Homo sapiens: one gene and its partners. The protein of the gene in region 3 purifies or fractionates together with the protein of the main gene of each other region. This does not show direct contact. Each region holds a gene or a part of one and is shown on either strand. Other genes may lie near its edges.

Region 1 (4,286 bases), on a different chromosome or scaffold from region 3:
GATCACCTGAGCCCAGGAGGGAAAGTTGCAGTGAGCCAAGATCACGCCACTGCCCTCCAGCCTGGGTGACAGAGCAAGACCCTGCCTCAAAAAATAAAAATAAAAAAACATAAAAGTAAATTTTTTTTTTTTTTTTTTTGGAGACCGAGTCTCACTCTGTCACCCAGGCTTGGAGTGCAGTGGCGAAATCCTGGCTCACTGCAACCTCCGCCTCCTGGGTTCAAGCAATTCTCTTGCCTCAGCCTCCCAAGTAACAGGGTTACAGGTGTATGCCACCATGCCCAGCTAATTTTGTATATTTAGTAGAGATGGGGTTTCACCATGTTACCCAGGCTGATCTCGAACTCCCGACCTCTGGTGATCTGCCTGCCTTGGCCTCCCAAAGTGCTGGTATTAGAGGCATGAGCCACTGTGCCTGGCCTTTTTTTGTTTGTTTTTGAGACAGAGTCTCGCTCTGTCACTTGGGCTAGAGTGTAGTGGTGCCATCTCGGCTCACTGCAACCTCTGCCTCCCGGGTTCAAGCGATTCTCCTGTCTCACCCTCCAGAGTAGCTGGGATTACAGGCATGTGCTACCATGCCCAGCTAATTTTTGTATTTTTAATAGAGACAGGGTTTCACTATGTTGGCCAGGCTGGTCTTGAACTCCTGACCTTAGGTGATCCACTGGCCTTGGCCTCCCTAAGTGCTGGGATTCCAGGCGTCAGCCACCGTGCCCGGCCAAAAATAAATTTTAAAAATAATAAATAAATGAAACTCATATAGATGAACATACATATTTATAAATTAAAAGTACAAGTAATTTTTTTAGTCTTGGTTAAAATATGAATTGTTTTCTCTGTACATTGTGGATTGTATAACCCTTAGTTTATTTTGTTTTTTATTTTTAGTTTAAGAATAATAATTCATTATTTTAAATATAATGTATTTATGTGTGTTTTTTAATACAAAATCTTTTTATTTATTTATTTTTTTTTTGAGACAGGGTCTCACTGTGTCACCCAGGCTGGAGTGCAGTGGCATGATGTCAGCTCACTGCAACCTCTGCCTCCCAGGCTCAGGCAATCCTCCCACCTTAGCCTCCGAGTATCTGGGACTACAGATGTGCACCACCATGCCCGGCTAATTTTTGTATTGTTTGTAGAGACAGGGTTTTGCCACGTTGCCCAGCCTGGTCTCGAGCTGCTGAGCCCAAGTGATCCTCCTGCCTCGGCCTCCTAAAGTGCTGGGATTACAGGCATGAGCCACCATGCCCGGCCGTGTTTTCTTTTTTAATCAAAATTTAATATAATTTGAAATCTAGTTCAAACAGAATTAAACTTTGAAGTTGTCATAATCTCATCCTGGAAATTAGGATTATCCCTAGTCTGGAATATTATCATTGGATTGATGATACCAAGCCACACCCAGAAATTTGGTAACTGTACTATGGAGCTTCTCTCTTTTTTTTTTTTTTTGTTTTTTTTTGAGGCAGAGTCTCGCTGTCGCCCAGGCTGGAGTGCAGTGGCGCGATCTCGGCTCACTGCAGGCTCCGCCCCCCGGGGTTCATGCCATTCTCCTGCCTCAGCCTCCAGAGTAGCTGGGCCTACAGGCGCCCGCCACCTCGCCTGGCTAATTTTTTGTATTTTTAGTAGAGACAGGGTTTCACCGTGTTAGCCAGGATGGTCTCGATCTCCTGACCTCGTGATCCGCCCGCCTCAGCCTCCCAAAGTGCTGGGATTACAGGCCTGAGCCACCACGCCTGGCCAGAGCTTCACATTTTTATCTTATCCCAGTGTATCCACAAGATCATATCAAATCTAATATTAAACAATTGAGTTGTGGATAAAATGGCATAACTTTGAAATCCATTTCATCTCTATAAATATATTAAGTATTGGTCAAAATAAGTGAATTTTAGGTCTTTCTTAATCATTTTTGGTGTTGATTCAGATTGGCATCAATCAACCAACATACCCTGATTCTTTTCAGGAAGGCATTGCTCCCTCCCCAACATTTTACGCTGCGGCTTTACCATAAAATGAATTTGTTCTCTTTTTATCACAAATGATGGAAATTTTTAGCTTCTTATTTATTTTTCATAAAATTTTATCATAATCAAATTGAAAATTTTTCAGACAATTCAAAATACCTTGCCCTTCAAATTTGAAGTATCATTATTTATATGCCACCAAACCAAGTCTGTGTTTTTATAAGAGGGATATAGACAGAAGGACTTTGTGGAGGTAACAAAAGTATGTGATCTCATGCAACAGTTGGGGCATGTTCAACAACAACCACCACAACAAAAAGTATGTGATGTATTTCATCATACTTCTACAGTGTGCTTATATTATGATACTCTTTGACATATTCCATACAGGAGTCTTTGATTCTCTTTCTTAGGCTATATTGTAAAGTATTTGAGTAAAATACCCCATATCTCAAGTTCTTGTGAAGTATTTCTCATATAGATCAGTGACATTAATTGTGTATTGCAGGAGAGGAGTATAGTATACTATATAACCCAAGACAGATAGAATGGTCATTTTTATATTTCTTATACCTATTTCATCATTATTTTACTCCCGTGCCATTTGTGTATTCACTACTTATGAATACACAATGAAAATGAATGGTTGTATGTTGCACAGGAGCCACCAATGCCTTTAGCTACTGGTTCTCTTTCATCCATTGTGATTTAAAGTAAACCAGTATTGGCTGGGCATGGTGGCTTACACCTGTAATCCCAGCACTTTGGGAGGCTGAAGCGGGGAGATCACTTGAGCCCAGGAGTTTGAGACCAGCCTGGGAAACACAGCAAGACCTTATCTCTATAAAAATAAAATAAACCAATCTTACATTTGTTAGTGTAGCAGAAACCAGCCTTCTTCGAAGTGGTCTTGGTGTGATTCTCCTATCCGTTATCAAAAACTTGAAGCTGTGATTTGCCTGAGGTAAGACATCTTGGGTACACTGAAATCAAATATTTAATTTTTTTGGTGAAAAAATAGTCTATGATATATATCCTGTGTTGCTTTCACCATAATGGATTGGTTATTGAATCAAACATATGCTGATTGCTGTGCATCTGCCAGTTAAGGCTGAGGTAAGAACAGAAATTAGTTGTCAAGAGATAAACTTACTAGCTGAGGTATTTGTAAGGGAGTTACAGAAGTGATATTCCAAAACAGCAGTGGTCCCTAAAACTCAGCAGAAAAGCAGAGTAAATACTACTCATCATCATATCCCTAGCATTTAGCAAGAGTGTGTGGCACAAAGTAGACACATGGTAAATATTGGTTAGGCGAGTGAATGGGTTAATGTATGAAAAAAAAAAATAGGAACCAGTGCCTATCTGCCTTTCCATCTATTGAAAAATCACTATAAAATACATAGATAACCTTTAAGCCATTGAAACTCATCCAGTTGAGTTAAAAGGATTACTACATCAAGGTTAGTTGCATTGCAGGTCATCCTACTTAAATATGGCTTTTTAAAATTAAATATATTGTAGGTGGTAGATCTTTCATCCATGGAGAAAATTTTAATGTTAGCATTTGTCTTTTCTCTACACTTTCTTTTTTTTTTCAAGCTCTGCCTCCCGGGTTTACGCCATTCTCCTGCCTCAGCCTCCCAACTAGCTGGGACTACAGGCACCCGCCACCACGCCCAGCTAATTTTTTATGTTTTCAGTAGAGACAGTATTTCACCATGTTAGCCAGGATGGTCTCGATCTCCTGACCTCGTGATCTGCCCACCTCGACCTCCTGAAGTGCTGGGATTACAGGCGTGAGCCACTGTGCCCGGCCTCTTTCCTCTACACTTTCGTTATCATCTTCCAGTCTTTGGAAGACAGTCCATCCTTTTTCTGATTTTTCTACTCTTGCCCATTATGTAGGAACAACACGGCATCTGATAGATTTACGTGGTGAGATTCTCTTGTAGCAAAGATAGAAGGTCCAGGGAATTTTTGTAACCATGTCCATGACACACATGAACTATGTTAATATTACTAATAACATACCCAGAATAAAAACATATAAATAAAGATTATCCAGTACAAACCAGTATAGAACTTGGATTTGAGGTACTATTATTGCCTATGCTGTATAACTGACTATAAAATGAGGCATAATTTTCTCCTTCTAGTTGTATTGTACATGTGCTATGAGAGCTTGTACTGATTTTTCCTCTAATCAGTTTCATTCTATTTGTGATAAAATAGCTAGTAACAAGAAATAATACTTAAGATTAAATTGTTGAGCAACCCTAAAGTCTTCATAACTCTGTAGTAGCAGCCTACACC
Region 2 (4,286 bases), on a different chromosome or scaffold from region 3:
CAAACTCCTGACCTCAAGTGATCCTCCCGCCTTGGCCTCCCAAAGTGTTGGGATTACAGGTGTGAGCCACCGCCCCTGGCCACGACCAGAATTTTATATTAAGAATTAGAACTATATGGTAAGAAGTCTATTTTAAAAGAATTAAGGTCAAATAGAAAACGTCAGTTTGTTTGCTATATTCATAAGACTATGGCAATAGACAGGCTATTTCTCTGTAGTTTTCTTTTTCTTTCTTTTTCTCTTTTTAAATATACATTTTAATTTATTACTTACTTTATTTATTTTTATAGAGACAGGGTCTCGTTTCGTTGCTCAGGCTGGTCTTGAATTCCTGGCCTCGCATGATCCTCCTGCCTCTGCCCTGCAAAATACTGGGATTACAGGAGTGAGCCACTGTGCCTGGCCTGTTATACTTTTCTAATGACAGAGCTAATAATTTTTTATTTCTATTTTTTCTTTTTTGAGATGGAGTCTTGCTCTCTTGCACAGGCTGGAGTGCAGTGGTGTGATCTCAGCTCACTGCAACCTCCACCTCCCTGGTTCAAGCGATTCTCTTGCCTCAGCCTCCTGAGTGGCTGGGATTACAGGCACGCACCACCACGCCAGGCTAATTTTTTTTGTATTTTCAGTAGAGACAGGGTTTCACCATGTTGGTCAGGCTGGTCTCGAACTCCTGACCTCGTAATCCACCCGCCTCAGCCTCCCAAAGTGCTGAGATTACAGTCATGAGCCGCCGTGCCTGGCCTATTTTTTCTTTCTAAAGCTTTAGAATGAAGGTGTTAGGGAAGCATCCAAGAAAGGGTTCACAGAAAAAATGGGCTAAATTTGTTGTTATCTTGTTTGTGTTTCCTTTTTATCCACTGATTGCAAAGCCACAGAGATCATAGAGCCTTCCAAGCAGGATAAGCCACTCATAGAAAAATTAGCGGAGATTTATGTCAACTCCTCCTTCTACAAAGAGACAAAAGCTGAATTACATCAACTTTCCGGGGGTGAGAAGAAGAAGAAGATCACAGTCTTCAAGGAGATCAGCTACACCACCTCCTTCTGTCATCAACTCAGATGGGTTTCCAAGCGTTCATTCAAAAACTTGCTGGGTAATCCCCAGGCCTCTATAGCTCAGGTAACCAGCAGATTCTTTTGAAATACTCAAATGGGAACAATGTGGTTCTGTTATCATCTGCTTCAGGATATGTTTATCTTCTACCCACCCTTCCAATTATTTGTTATCTTCACTCCACCTGGGATATAGAACCAGTCAGCAGAACAAATAAAGGACAATTAAGTTTTACTTTTGGAAAGCTTCCCTTTTTTTGAGACAGAGTCTCACTCTGTTGCCCAGGCTGGAGTGTGGTGGCATGAACTCAGCTCACTGCAGCCCTGACCTCCCTGGGCTCAAGTGATCCTCACACCTCAGCCTCTTGAATAGCTGAGACTACAGGCGTGTCCCACCACGTCCAGCTAATTTTTGTGTTTTGTGTAGAGATGGGGTTTCGCTGTGTTGCCCAGGCTGGTCTTGAACTCGTGGGTTCAAGCGATTCTCCTGCCTCAGTCTCCCAGAGTGCTAGGATTACAGGTGTGAGCCACCACATCTGGCCAGGTTCTTTTTTTTAGTGGTTTCTTAGACTACCTAACTCAGAATTTTTGTTGATTTAGACAAGCTGTAATGAATAATCTGAGTAGAAAAATTTTTTTTTTGGGAAATTGTGAAAGAAGTGTCAGCCAGTTTTGGGGTTTTCTGGTAGCTGTTCACTTTTGTTCACTGATTCATTCAACTTGTTCTTATAGGGCCTGTGCTGTGCTTTAGGGATGTGAATTCAGTAGTGAACAAAATGGGCAAAAATAAAACTCTGCTCATGGAGCTAATTTTTTGAGGAAGACAGTTATGATAAATAATAAAGAAATTAAATAGATAGCATGTTAGATGGTAGAAGAAACTATGGGGAAAGTTTAAGCAGAGAAGGGGTGGAGAAAGGGGAGGAAGAGAGAGAAGTAGGGAGAAGAAGGTTGATTTGCAGTTGGAATCAGGTGATCAGGGAAACCTTCACCTACTGTCACTGAATACACCTGAAAGGGAGTATGTGCTGGCCACTCCAAGGGAAGAGCCTGTGTGCAAAGTGCTGTTCCTTGTCATTTACCTTCCTTAGACAGTTTACAGGTGAAACAAATGTAGTAAGCAAATTTGAGTTCACAGAACAAGGCTATTCATTGTTAGATTAACTTTCTGTTAATCAAAATGAGATAATGTTTCTTTGTTCCTTGGTTGGCTCTGTGATAGTTGGTGATTATTACTCCTTGTGGTTTTTGTTATTCTTTTCTTTACACATTTTTTTTTTTTTAGAGACTGGGTCTCACTCTGTCACTCATACTGGAGTGCAGTGGTGCAATCATAGCTCACTGCAACCCCAAACTCTTGGCTCAAGCGATCCTCACACTTCAGCCTCCCGAGTAGCTGTGACTACAGCCGTGCACCACAACACCTGGCTGATTTTTTAATTTTTTGTAGAAACAGGGTCTCACTATGTTGTCCTGGTCTGGATCTCCTGGGCTCAAGCGATCCTCCTGCCTTGGCCTCCCAAAGTGCTGGGATCACAGGTGTGAGCCACCATGCCTGGCCTTTTCTGTTATTCTTAACCCCTCTGTCACCCAAAACATTAGTACTCCCAGTTCATTGGTCCATTCTTCAAAGAAGTCAATTTAGCTGGTTATTTTGGGGCTGTTATTTTTATTAACAATATTGAGTTTCTGTTGAGTACTAAAAGATGGCACATTGTTGGCTCTAGTAAAATATTACTGACGTTTAAACTTGTGCATCATAATTTCTATACTTAAGTATATATAAAATATATCTAAGAGCTTGTATCCCTAGTTAAGCCATACTGCTAATTATGTATATATATGTATATATGTATAGCCACATATATGTATGTATAGCCATACTGCTAGTTAAGTATATATATAAATTTATCTAAGAGCTTGTATCCCTAGTTGAACCATATTGCTAATTTCTCCAAATGTTTTTGGTACGTATAATTTGGTGTTTCTGTCAGAACACTGGCACTTTTATATACTATCAATTAAAGGCAAAATTTTATTCTTTGAGCATAGATTTGATATCATTTGGAAATCAGTCTGGTAGGATCAACCTGGGTTACTTATTGTCAACAGTGAAATAATGTAATGAATTGCTTTTTTAGTGTGATGTATGCATTAGATTTTTCTTACTTGGAAAATAACTTGAATTATCTTGCTTCAAAAAATGGTTTATAAATGTCTTGTCCAAATCGCCTATGTGGCAATACTGGAGAGGGCATAATTAGAACACAGAGCTGTTTTTCACACACTGAGATTCTGCATGTTTTGATACTGGGCTTCCTTCCAATGCTAACACCTGGCCTAGTGCCTCTAGGTTTAGCTTCCCTGCCTCATCAGTGAACTCACTTTCACAAAAGGAATTCCAGCCATGTTCAGAGCAGTGGCAGTCTCTTAGATTAAGAATAGGACCTTGTATCTCCCTGAGCATCTGCTTAGCAGGACAAGTTTTGTTTCGATTTGTGAAAAACTGGAATATTAGCTTAGGGCAGGAGTAGGCAATATATATTTTTTTTTTTTGTAAAGGATCAGGTAGTAAATATTTTAGGCTTTGCAGATCAGGTGGTGTTTGTCTCAGGTAGTCAGCTCTACCGTTTTAGTGTGAAAGCAGCCAAGCTCATAACATGAATAAATGAACATGGCAGTATTCCAATAATAAACGAAAGGCTGGCTAGATGCAGTGGTTCCTGCCTATAACCCCAGCACTTTGGGAGACCAAGGCAGAAGGATGCTTGAGGCCAAGAGTGTGAGAACAGCTTGGGCAATAAAGCAAGACCCCCTTTTTTTTTCTGAGACAGAGTCATGCTCTGTCGCCCAGGCTGGAGTGCAGTGGTGCTGTGTCGGCTCACTGTAACCTCCGCCTCCCGGGTTCAAGCAATTCTCCTGCCTCAGCCTCCCGAGTAGCTGGGACTACGGGTGCCCGCCACCATGCCCAGCTAATTTTTGTATTTTTAGTATAGACAGGGTCGCACCATGTTGGCCAGGCTGGCTTCGAACTCCTGACCTCAGGTGGGTCCACCCGCTTCAGTCCCCCACAGTGCTGGGATTACAGATGTGAGCCACTGTGCCTGGCCAAGACCCTATCTTAAAAAAAAAGGTAACTTTCATTTTATTCCAATGAAACATTATACATTGGCACTGAAATTTGAATTTTATATAAATTTTATATTGTGAGAAATATTATTATTCTTGAC
Region 3 (5,810 bases):
CAGGGTCTGACTATCACCCAAGCTGGAGTGCAGTGGCACAAACATGCCTCACTGCAACCTCAACCTCCCAGGCTCAAGAAATCCTTCCACCTCAACACCACCCCCGACTCCCAGTAGCTGAGACCACAGGCACATGCCACCATGCCCATATAATTTTTTTACCTTTCCGTAGAGGTGAGGTCTCCCTATGTTACCCAGGCAAAATACCCAAGTATTTTGGCTATTCTGGATCCCTTGCATTTCCATATGAATTTTTTGTTTTTTGTTTTTTATTTTTTTTTGAGACAGAGTCTTGCTCTGTCACCCACGCTGGAGTGCAATGGCGCCATCTCAGCTCATTGCAACCTCTGCCTCCCGGGTTCAAGCGATTCTCCTGCCTCAGCCTCCCAAGTAGCTGCGATTACAGGCACCCACCACTTATTTTAATTTATTTATTTAGTAGTTTTGGAGACAGGGTCTTGCTTTGCCACCTAGGCTGAAGTGCAGTGACAGGATCATAGCTCACTGCAGCCTCAGACTCCTGGGTTCAAGTGATCCTCTCACCTCAGCCTCCCAAAGTGATGGGATTACCGGTGTGAGCCACTGGGCCTAGCCAAATACTGTATTTTTGATCGACATTTGGTTGAAAAATATCTATGTATTAGTAAACCTGTGTTGTTCAAGAGTCCACTGTGTTTTGCTGGGGATTTCTACATCTATATTCATAAGGGATTTTGGTCTGTGGTTTTCTTTTCTTGTGATGTCTTTGTTGAGTTTAGTGTCAGGGTAATCCTGGCCTTGCAGAATGAGTTAGAAAGTTTTTGTTTCCTGGTGGTTTGTCTTCACTGCATCACTGTGGGGTTGCTCTGTGTAGCTGTCTCACTCAGTAGTGAGGGAAATATCTCTGGAAATGTACAATTTACTGCATCAGCCCTGCTTAGTCTCACATATCCGTTGTATGTTGGTGCCTGTGGCAGAGGGTGTGGTGTCACACCTTCTCCAGGTAGATAAAAAGTCAACACTCCAAAACACTGGACACCAGCAATAAGGCAGTCATTGGTAAGGCCTTTGGGGAGCTCCCATTACAAATCTGCCTAACCCTCTGGCCTGAAGTGCCTAGACTTTTGTGGTGACATTTCAGGACAAGGGACGTCTGCTCAGGCAACACAGGGATGGGGTAAGGAAGCTACCATCCCACCGGAAGTGGGAGCCATCTGAGAAGTTCCTCAAGACAATACCAGCCAAATATTAGAAGGTATTGGCATTCTGGCCGAGGCAGAATGTTCCAAATTGGCACCATCTTGTCTGGGAGTCCATCATCCTGTCACCAGCCCAATAGGCTGGATAGGCTGCAGATGCTCCTAAGATTCCATTCCACAAACCACATGTAAGCCTGAACACATGTCTAGTATAGCGTTCTGGGGAGGCCAGGAGCCATGGTTCATGAATGTAATCACAGCCTTTTGGGAGGCCAAGAGTTCGAGACCAGCCCGGGCAGCATAGTGAGACCCAGTCTCTAAAAAAATTAAAATTAAAAAATTAGCCAGGTGTATTGTTGCATAGCTGCCTGCCTGGGGCGTGGGGCACTGGAATGCAGTACTCAGGACACAGTGGCTGTCGCTGATAAACACAAGTGGGGATCTGCTATTGGGGTCCCATAGGGCCCTCCCGGCCTGCCAGAGGTGCCTAGGCTAGGAAGGGCTGCCACTGGGGTCTGAGGAGCTCTACTCCCCCACAGGAGGGCTGCAGGCTGGTCCCAGAAGCTGCTTGCTTCCTTGCAGGACGTGGTAGCTGCAGGCTCAAAACAGCCAGAATGCATTCCCTCAATTCGCAGAACTCTCTCAAAAGGCTGCAGTCTCTTCCATTGTAAGAGTAGAGGTCAGGGACCGCCCCAGGCCACTCTGCCAGACCCATGTCTTCATCTAACTCACTGTGCCTGAAGCTCACATGACGGTGCTGTGGGGCCTGTCTGGGGCCCAGCTGGGTGGGGTTCATGTACTGGGGTGAGGGATCAAGAAGGGTGTCCGCTGCAGTAGAAAGAAGGTGGGCTGCGGACTTTCAGACGTGGCCCTTAACCTCCCCGAACTGACCTAGGCTAGTCAGTCAGCCGGCGGTCTGACCTTCTCCATCTGTGACTGAGTCACAGTCACAGGGCTTCCCTAGACCCCGGTGAGCTCCGGTAACGACCTTGCGAGGTCGGGCAGAGTGGGCAGGGTGAAATATCTGGGTGTGTGGCAGCGGGTGGGGCCGCGCGGGGGGCCTGGGATGGGGGCGGGCCCTGCGCTCGGCGCCGGCGAACTGGGCGGGCTCAGTGCTCAGAGCGGAGGCAGCGGCTGCGGCAGCAGCAGGTGGGTTGCAGCAGATCCTGCGGGGACGGGGACTGGGACGGGCTCAGGCCCAAGAACAGGCGAAGGCGCAGGTGTCCGGGGACGGGGGCGCGGCGGAGCAGGCTCTAGCAGCAGCGGCGTGTCGGACATGGGGAGGTGTGCGGGCCCAGGGCGCCCCTGCATTCCGCCTGGCGCGCGGATACCCCAGCCTGGCCACGGGTGCAGGGGCGGGGGTGTATGTAGCCGCCACTGTCTGTCTGTGGCCAGGTGGCTGCCTGGGCCACACCCGCCCCGACGCAGAGCCGCGGCTCCTGTTCCGGGTCCGGCTCGACTCTGGGGAAGCCTCGGTTTCACCTGGCTCTGGGACCCCACCACTGAGCCGTTCCCAGCCTCTCACCCTGCTCCCCCTGGAGCTGCTCCCTCCCCACCCCTCAGGGCCACCGAGCGGGTGAGCAGGTGGGGCCTCACCAGGCCTCCTTTGCTGCCTGGGATGCAGACAGGGCCTCCAGGCTTCCTGTGACCTCCTGCCCACAGGTTCTGACACCTGCCCCATTCCAGCTCTCCAGCAGGCCCCTGGTGAGGGTGTCCAGGTCCCCAGGTCAGGGACAGAGAGAGGACTGGGGGTGGTCAGACCAGGAGGGATGGAAGGCTGGTCAGGCCCCGGCTACGCATCCTGTCATTCCCCTCTGGCCCTAGCAGGTTCCAGTAGCTGGCTCGGTGCTCTTCTCGGCCACCTGCCATGGCCCGGGGGCTGCCCACCATTGCTAGCCTGGCACGCTTATGCCAGAAGCTGAACCGCCTGAAGCCGCTGGAGGACTCCACCATGGAGACGTCACTGCGGCGCTGCCTGTCCACGCTGGACCTGACTCTTCTGGGCGTGGGTGGCATGGTGGGCTCGGGTCTCTACGTGCTCACAGGTGCCGTGGCCAAGGAGGTGGCTGGCCCTGCTGTGCTCTTGTCCTTCGGTGTGGCCGCTGTGGCCTCCCTGCTGGCAGCCCTATGCTATGCAGAATTTGGGGCACGTGTGCCACGCACGGGCTCTGCCTACCTGTTCACCTACGTATCCATGGGCGAGCTGTGGGCCTTCCTCATCGGCTGGAATGTTCTCCTCGAATACATCATCGGTGGCGCCGCCGTGGCCCGTGCCTGGAGTGGCTACCTGGACTCTATGTTCAGCCACAGCATCCGCAACTTCACTGAGACCCACGTGGGTTCTTGGCAGGTGCCCCTCCTGGGCCACTACCCGGACTTCCTGGCTGCTGGCATCATCCTCCTGGCCTCTGCCTTTGTCTCCTGTGGAGCCCGCGTGTCCTCCTGGCTCAATCACACCTTCTCGGCCATCAGCCTGCTTGTCATTCTCTTCATTGTCATCCTGGGCTTCATCCTGGCCCAGCCTCACAACTGGAGCGCTGACGAAGGCGGCTTTGCACCCTTCGGCTTCTCCGGCGTCATGGCCGGCACTGCCTCCTGCTTCTATGCTTTCGTGGGCTTCGACGTCATTGCCGCCTCCAGTGAGGAGGCCCAGAACCCACGGCGGTCTGTGCCTCTGGCCATCGCCATCTCGCTTGCCATTGCAGCTGGTGCCTACATCCTTGTCTCCACCGTGCTAACCCTCATGGTGCCCTGGCACAGCCTGGACCCCGACTCAGCGCTTGCAGATGCCTTCTACCAGCGGGGCTACAGGTGGGCTGGCTTCATCGTGGCAGCTGGCTCCATCTGCGGTGAGAGACTCTTCCTGGGCAGGGTGGCAGGGAAAAGAGCAAGGGGGACCTTGTCCTCAGATTCTTGGGGAATGCACCTTCAACTGGGGCTGTTTTACTAGTTGCATAATGGGGCAAGGAAAGTGCTAATTATTAGAAACTCTTCACTTCAAAAAAAGTTTCTTCAGAAACTTTGGAAGGGACCGCCCCACACATGGTCCATAGCATATTAGTTCTGGGCATGTCCTTATAGATTATTTCCTAGGCAGAGGGACTCAGCCCTCATCCGATGCTCCAGTGGGCCTGTGACCTAACCCAGATGTCCTGTTCTTGGGCAAAGCGCTGACAATCTATTACTCCTACACAAACTCATGCTTACTCTGAGAGCCCAGACAAGCTCATGCCCTTGTTCCCAAGGAGCCACCCATGCACCGACCCCCAGCAGAGGCCCCTGGTGGGCTTCTCCGCCATGCTGACCCTCCCCACTCTCTCTGCTACAGCCATGAACACCGTCCTGCTCAGCCTCCTCTTCTCCCTGCCACGCATTGTCTATGCCATGGCCGCCGATGGGCTCTTCTTCCAGGTGTTTGCCCATGTGCACCCCCGGACACAGGTGCCTGTGGCGGGCACCCTGGCGTTCGGGCTCCTCACGGCCTTCCTGGCACTGCTGCTGGACCTGGAGTCGCTGGTTCAGTTCCTGTCCCTTGGCACACTCCTGGCCTACACATTCGTGGCCACCAGTATCATTGTGCTGCGCTTCCAGAAGTCTTCCCCGCCCAGCTCCCCAGGCCCAGCCAGCCCTGGCCCCCTGACCAAGCAGCAGAGCTCCTTCTCAGACCACCTACAGCTGGTGGGCACTGTACACGCCTCCGTCCCTGAGCCAGGGGAGCTGAAGCCAGCCCTGAGGCCCTACCTGGGCTTCTTGGATGGGTACAGCCCTGGAGCAGTGGTGACTTGGGCGCTTGGCGTTATGTTGGCCTCAGCCATCACCATAGGCTGCGTGCTTGTCTTTGGGAACTCGACCCTGCACCTCCCACACTGGGGTTACATCCTGCTGCTCCTGCTCACCAGTGTCATGTTTCTGCTCAGCCTCCTTGTCCTGGGGGCTCACCAGCAACAGTATCGGGAAGACTTATTTCAGGTACCTCCCCTAGCCAACACCCACTCACACTCGGCCCAGGCAGCTGCCTCCCCTTCCCCCACTACCATCCCAGAATGAACAAGTCTCACGGGGCTGGGGAGGACCACACACCCATCCCGCACCCCTTTCTGCATGGTGAGTGAGCACATGTCTCCACAATCTCCCGTGAGGAACAAAGGCTCTATGGATTCCCGAGAAAGTGAGCCCTGGGCTGGCAGATCTTTCCTGCAGCCCGGCCCAGCCCTGCCCTGCCTCTGCCTCCTCAGATCCCCATGGTTCCCCTGATTCCAGCCCTGAGCATCGTCCTCAACATCTGCCTCATGCTGAAACTTAGCTATCTGACCTGGGTGCGCTTCTCCATCTGGCTGCTGATGGGTGAGTGGGGGCCAGGCTGGGACCGGGGTCAGGAGGAGGGCAAAGAGGACAGGAAGGGCTGGAACCTGTACCTCAGGCTCATGCCCTGCCTCCTGCCCTGTCTAGGACTTGCAGTGTATTTCGGCTATGGCATCCGGCATAGCAAGGAGAACCAGCGGGAGCTGCCAGGGCTGAACTCCACACACTACGTGGTATTCCCCAGGGGCAGCCTGGAGGAGACAGTGCAGGCTATGCAGCCCCCCAGCCAGGCACCAGCACAGGACCCTGGCCATATGGAGTAGCTGATCA
Region 4 (3,824 bases), on a different chromosome or scaffold from region 3:
AGTCTTCAGAAGGTTTTTAAAATTCTTTGTATAAATTCTTGAGAAATGATATCTTCATGTTTTTTAAGGCTCAAAATGGAAAATCATAAATCCAATAATAAGGAAAACATAACAATTGTTGATATATCCAGAAAAATTAACCAGCTTCCAGAAGCAGAAAGGTAAGATCCCTTCTTAATTTAAAAACACCTTTTATCAGGTGGATTTTCACCATTGATTCATTATCTCAAGTTTATCTGGTTTGAGTATAAACAACATGGAATGTGAGAAGGAAATTGCCCTTTTCTTGCCTGGATGAGAGCGTTTAACCATTTTGCTCAACATCACATAGCTAATTGTGGAAGGTGAGGCTGGAACTCATGTCTTTGGACATACCTAATTGTATAATGTTTTGAGTTTTTCCATTAGGCTTGGAGTATAGTAAAATGTAAACATTTACAGACCCATTTAAATAACAAAACTTTAACTTTTAAAATGTCTTTTTTTTCCCAGTTCATTCTGTCAGTATGCTTACCAGTCTAAGAGTACCATAGAACACACATAGCAAGATAGAGAATGTCAGAGAAATAGGATCATGGCTAAAGATCTTTAAGATATTATTAAAGAGGGCCAGGCATGGTGGCTCACGCCAGTAATCCCAGCACTTTGGGAGGCCAGGGTGGGCAGATCACCTGAGGTCAGGAGTTCAGACCAGCCTGGCCAACATGGTGAAACCTCATCTCTACTAAAAGTACAAAAATTAGCTGGGCGTGGTGGCAGGTGCCTGTAATCCCAGCTACTTGGGAGGCTGAGGCAGGAGAATTGCTTGAACCAGGGAGGCGGAGGTTGCAGTGAGCCGAGATCACACCACTACACCCCAGCCTGGGCGACAAGAGTGAGGATCCGTCTCAAAAAAAAAAAAAAAAAAAAAAGATATTAAAGAGAAAAACCAATATAGGGAACATACTAATCTTTGCCAGGCAGCTAATGTGTACTTCCACAAAATGTCTTACACTTTGTTGACAGTCAAGAAGGTCTCTCTGACTATAAAAGGATGAAAAGCAGCCACCTGGGAAGGAGAGAGGGACAGTGTCTTAAGTAGAGGGAATGGCATATGCCTAGCCACAAGATAGCCAAGGCTTGTGGTACTTGAGTAACCATTGTTACCGAAGTACTAAGGAAGTGGGAGTAAGGACCAGGAATAGTTTTGAGCAGGGGGATGATGTTAGCATTTCTAAAGAACATTCCAGCTGCTTTTTGGAAAGCAGATTTGAGGTAGGAAAGAAAGGAAACACAAATACCAGTAGAAAAAATGGCACAGTAATCCTGGTGAGTGGAGATGGTAGGGGTGGTGACAGCTGAGATGAAAAGAGGATGCATTTAAAATACATTCTGGAAGCATAATCTTGCTATCTTCAGGAATAGAAACTGAACAAATCCCCATCTTGCTGCCACTTACCATCTTAATCAGGGAGAACCCATAAATCAAGACCAGTAGTGTTCAGAACAAGGATCTCCAAGGGGAAGAAAAAAAAGGCCAGTAGTAAGAACTTGGTGAGATCTTAAAAGCTCTTTCACCCCCCCTCCCCACACTCCAACTCCACTCCCTTCTAGTTGTTTTCCTGAGGTAACGGAAAACCTTTTAAAGCAAAAAAGGAACTATGTCCATGTTTCCAGGCCAGCAAGATAGGGAAAGTGAGAAAGACTAATAAAAGAGTAGTAGGCTGGGCATGGTGGCTCACACCTGTAATCCCAGCACTTTGGGAGGCGGAGGCGGGCTGGTCACCTGAGGTCAGGAGTTTAAGACTAGCCTGGCCAACATGGCGAAACCCTATCTCTACTAAAAATACAAAAATTAGCCAGATGTGGGGGCACGTGCCTGTAGTCCTACCCACTGGAGAAGCTGAGGCACGAGAATTGTTTGAACCTGGGAGGCGGATGTTGCATGGAGCTGAGATCATGCCACTGCACTCCAGCCTGGGCGACAGAGCAAGACTGTCTCAAAAAAGAGTAGATGGTGGCAGCTTTGAAGAGAAGAAAGCAGTCTGTCACTGGGTTCTTTACCAAATTAGAAAGAATACCTGGAACTGCAAAGTAAAATTTAGTTTAGAGGCAATAAATGTTTCAATCATTGGCATCTAAACTAGGCAGATTACAGTGTCCTGTTATCTTTGCCTTGTTCCTATTTTTTCTCTTCATTCCCATTTTATTTTCTAAGTTTAAATCTTCATTTCTTCTTGGATTATTAATCAGGTATTTAATGGTTACTTGGCATGTCCTTCAGTGTATGGAGCTTTCTTAATATCAAAAACTTCATTTTCTGATCTACAGCAATACTTTCACGTACATGTTTGTCATTTGTTAAATTTGGGCTATTTCATGTCTATTTCTTGTGTATGTCTTATCAAAAAGTCATGAGTTTTTAGTTGGTATAGGTACTTTTTTGGAAAACTGGCAAGGGGCTGCTAGGTAACAATTTTGTGCTAACTTTTAATTAACTAAACATTTTGACCTTAGCTATGGGAAAAATCTGGTTGGGAGAGAGCAAAGTTTGCTATGCAGATTTCACTTGTACTACTTTTTATTTATTTGTATATGTAACATACTTGTAAACAAATGGACTTATATATAACATGTATATATGTATTTTATATATATTATATATACATACAGGCAAATTGTTTACCTGAGCATTGGGATTTAAAATGGGGATAATATACATTTCACATGATTTTTATGATGAAATATTTTAGAGGAAGTGTTCAAGTTTTTTATTCCAACCCCCACAAAAAAAAAATAGGCTTTTCACATTTACATGGTTTTTGTGGTTGGTAGGTTCTCCAGACTGTCATCACTAATTATAATCTATGTACTCCAAGTTCCTGAACTGCCACTGTCTTGTACCACCATTACCATTTTCATAGACTTCTGTTATATCTCGTTTACATCTCTTTCTTCTCCAGTAATATTTAACTATGTTAACCTTGAAGATAGAAGGTAATTTTTTGTGCCTTTAGCACTAAGTCTGCTGCATACAGTGGGGTTCTCAATGAGTGACAGGCATCATGATTGCAAAGTGTCAGATAAGAAAAGCAATACCTTATACAACGTAGGAAGCTGAGTTCCTAGAAAAGCTATTTTAAGATGAGTGTAAGCCATAGAAGTTAGAGGAGGTACTCTGTGGCTACTTTGGCTAGTTAAGAGTAATGAAAATCTTAAGACTGTATTGTAGATGGCAATGTAAGTGGTAAAAAAGCTAAGTCGTAGTCTGAAAAGTTTGGAGTCAGTATTTTCAATATTCAGCAATCATGTTAGGTATTACTTTTTCCCAAAACTAAAGAATGCATAGGACATAAGTTAAAAGTTCATACATAACCTGGCTTCAAATCCAGTTCTACCACTACCTGAAAACATCAGTTTATTTCTCATCAATGGGTTGTTATAAAGTACCTAGCATAGGGTATTGCTTAAATGTTAATACTCCCAATCCTGACACTAATGTTTCAGGGAAGAGTGAAAGAAATCACATTAACTCCACATTATTGAACATCTTCTGTGTCAGGCTGAATACATCTTTGTATCCATTGTCTTCTGGTTGTTTAAAGACTAGTGTAGAAGCCTGACATGTAAATCGGTGATTATATAAGATAGTACTGTCTTGTAATGTGTTGTGCTAGAGAGGTTAAGTATTAATTATTATGGGAGCTCAGGAGAGGCACCCACTGGCTGCTGGGAGAAGAGCAAAAACCTATATATAAAGCAATTTTTAAGATTTTGGTTCTATAAGGGATAGATGTCGTATCCAGTTAGTGTATTCCCAAAGTCCTATAACACATGTCAAGATC

The links. Proteins that work in one complex are often made in the same cells at the same time.
Region 1: the proteins of SLC7A4 (region 3) and NT5C3A purify together in Homo sapiens (affinity purification with mass spectrometry; one large-scale study listed by BioGRID and IntAct). This does not show direct contact.
Region 2: the proteins of SLC7A4 (region 3) and ABCG2 purify together in Homo sapiens (affinity purification with mass spectrometry; one large-scale study listed by BioGRID and IntAct). This does not show direct contact.
Region 4: the proteins of SLC7A4 (region 3) and TMEM126A purify together in Homo sapiens (affinity purification with mass spectrometry; one large-scale study listed by BioGRID and IntAct). This does not show direct contact.

Annotation. Positions count from the first base shown.
Region 1 is NC_000007.14:33,028,277-33,032,562, reverse strand, and holds part of NT5C3A (cytosolic 5'-nucleotidase 3A), read left to right. Parts: intron 1-2,848; exon of another isoform or gene 2,849-2,934; intron 2,935-4,286. UniProt on the Homo sapiens protein: Nucleotidase which shows specific activity towards cytidine monophosphate (CMP) and 7-methylguanosine monophosphate (m(7)GMP). CMP seems to be the preferred substrate.
Region 2 is NC_000004.12:88,110,140-88,114,425, reverse strand, and holds part of ABCG2 (broad substrate specificity ATP-binding cassette transporter ABCG2), read left to right. Parts: intron 1-872; coding exon 873-1,123; intron 1,124-4,286.
Region 3 is NC_000022.11:21,029,048-21,034,857, reverse strand, and holds the start of SLC7A4 (cationic amino acid transporter 4), read left to right. Parts: upstream 1-2,296; 5' UTR 2,297-2,327; exon of another isoform or gene 2,328-3,005; 5' UTR 3,006-3,045; coding exon 3,046-4,027; intron 4,028-4,506; coding exon 4,507-5,147; intron 5,148-5,413; coding exon 5,414-5,522; intron 5,523-5,627; coding exon 5,628-5,803; 3' UTR 5,804-5,810. UniProt on the Homo sapiens protein: Involved in the transport of the cationic amino acids (arginine, lysine and ornithine).
Region 4 is NC_000011.10:85,650,181-85,654,004, forward strand, and holds part of TMEM126A (transmembrane protein 126A), read left to right. Parts: intron 1-68; 5' UTR 69-75; coding exon 76-161; intron 162-3,824. UniProt on the Homo sapiens protein: Protein required for the cotranslational protein quality control in the inner membrane of the mitochondria.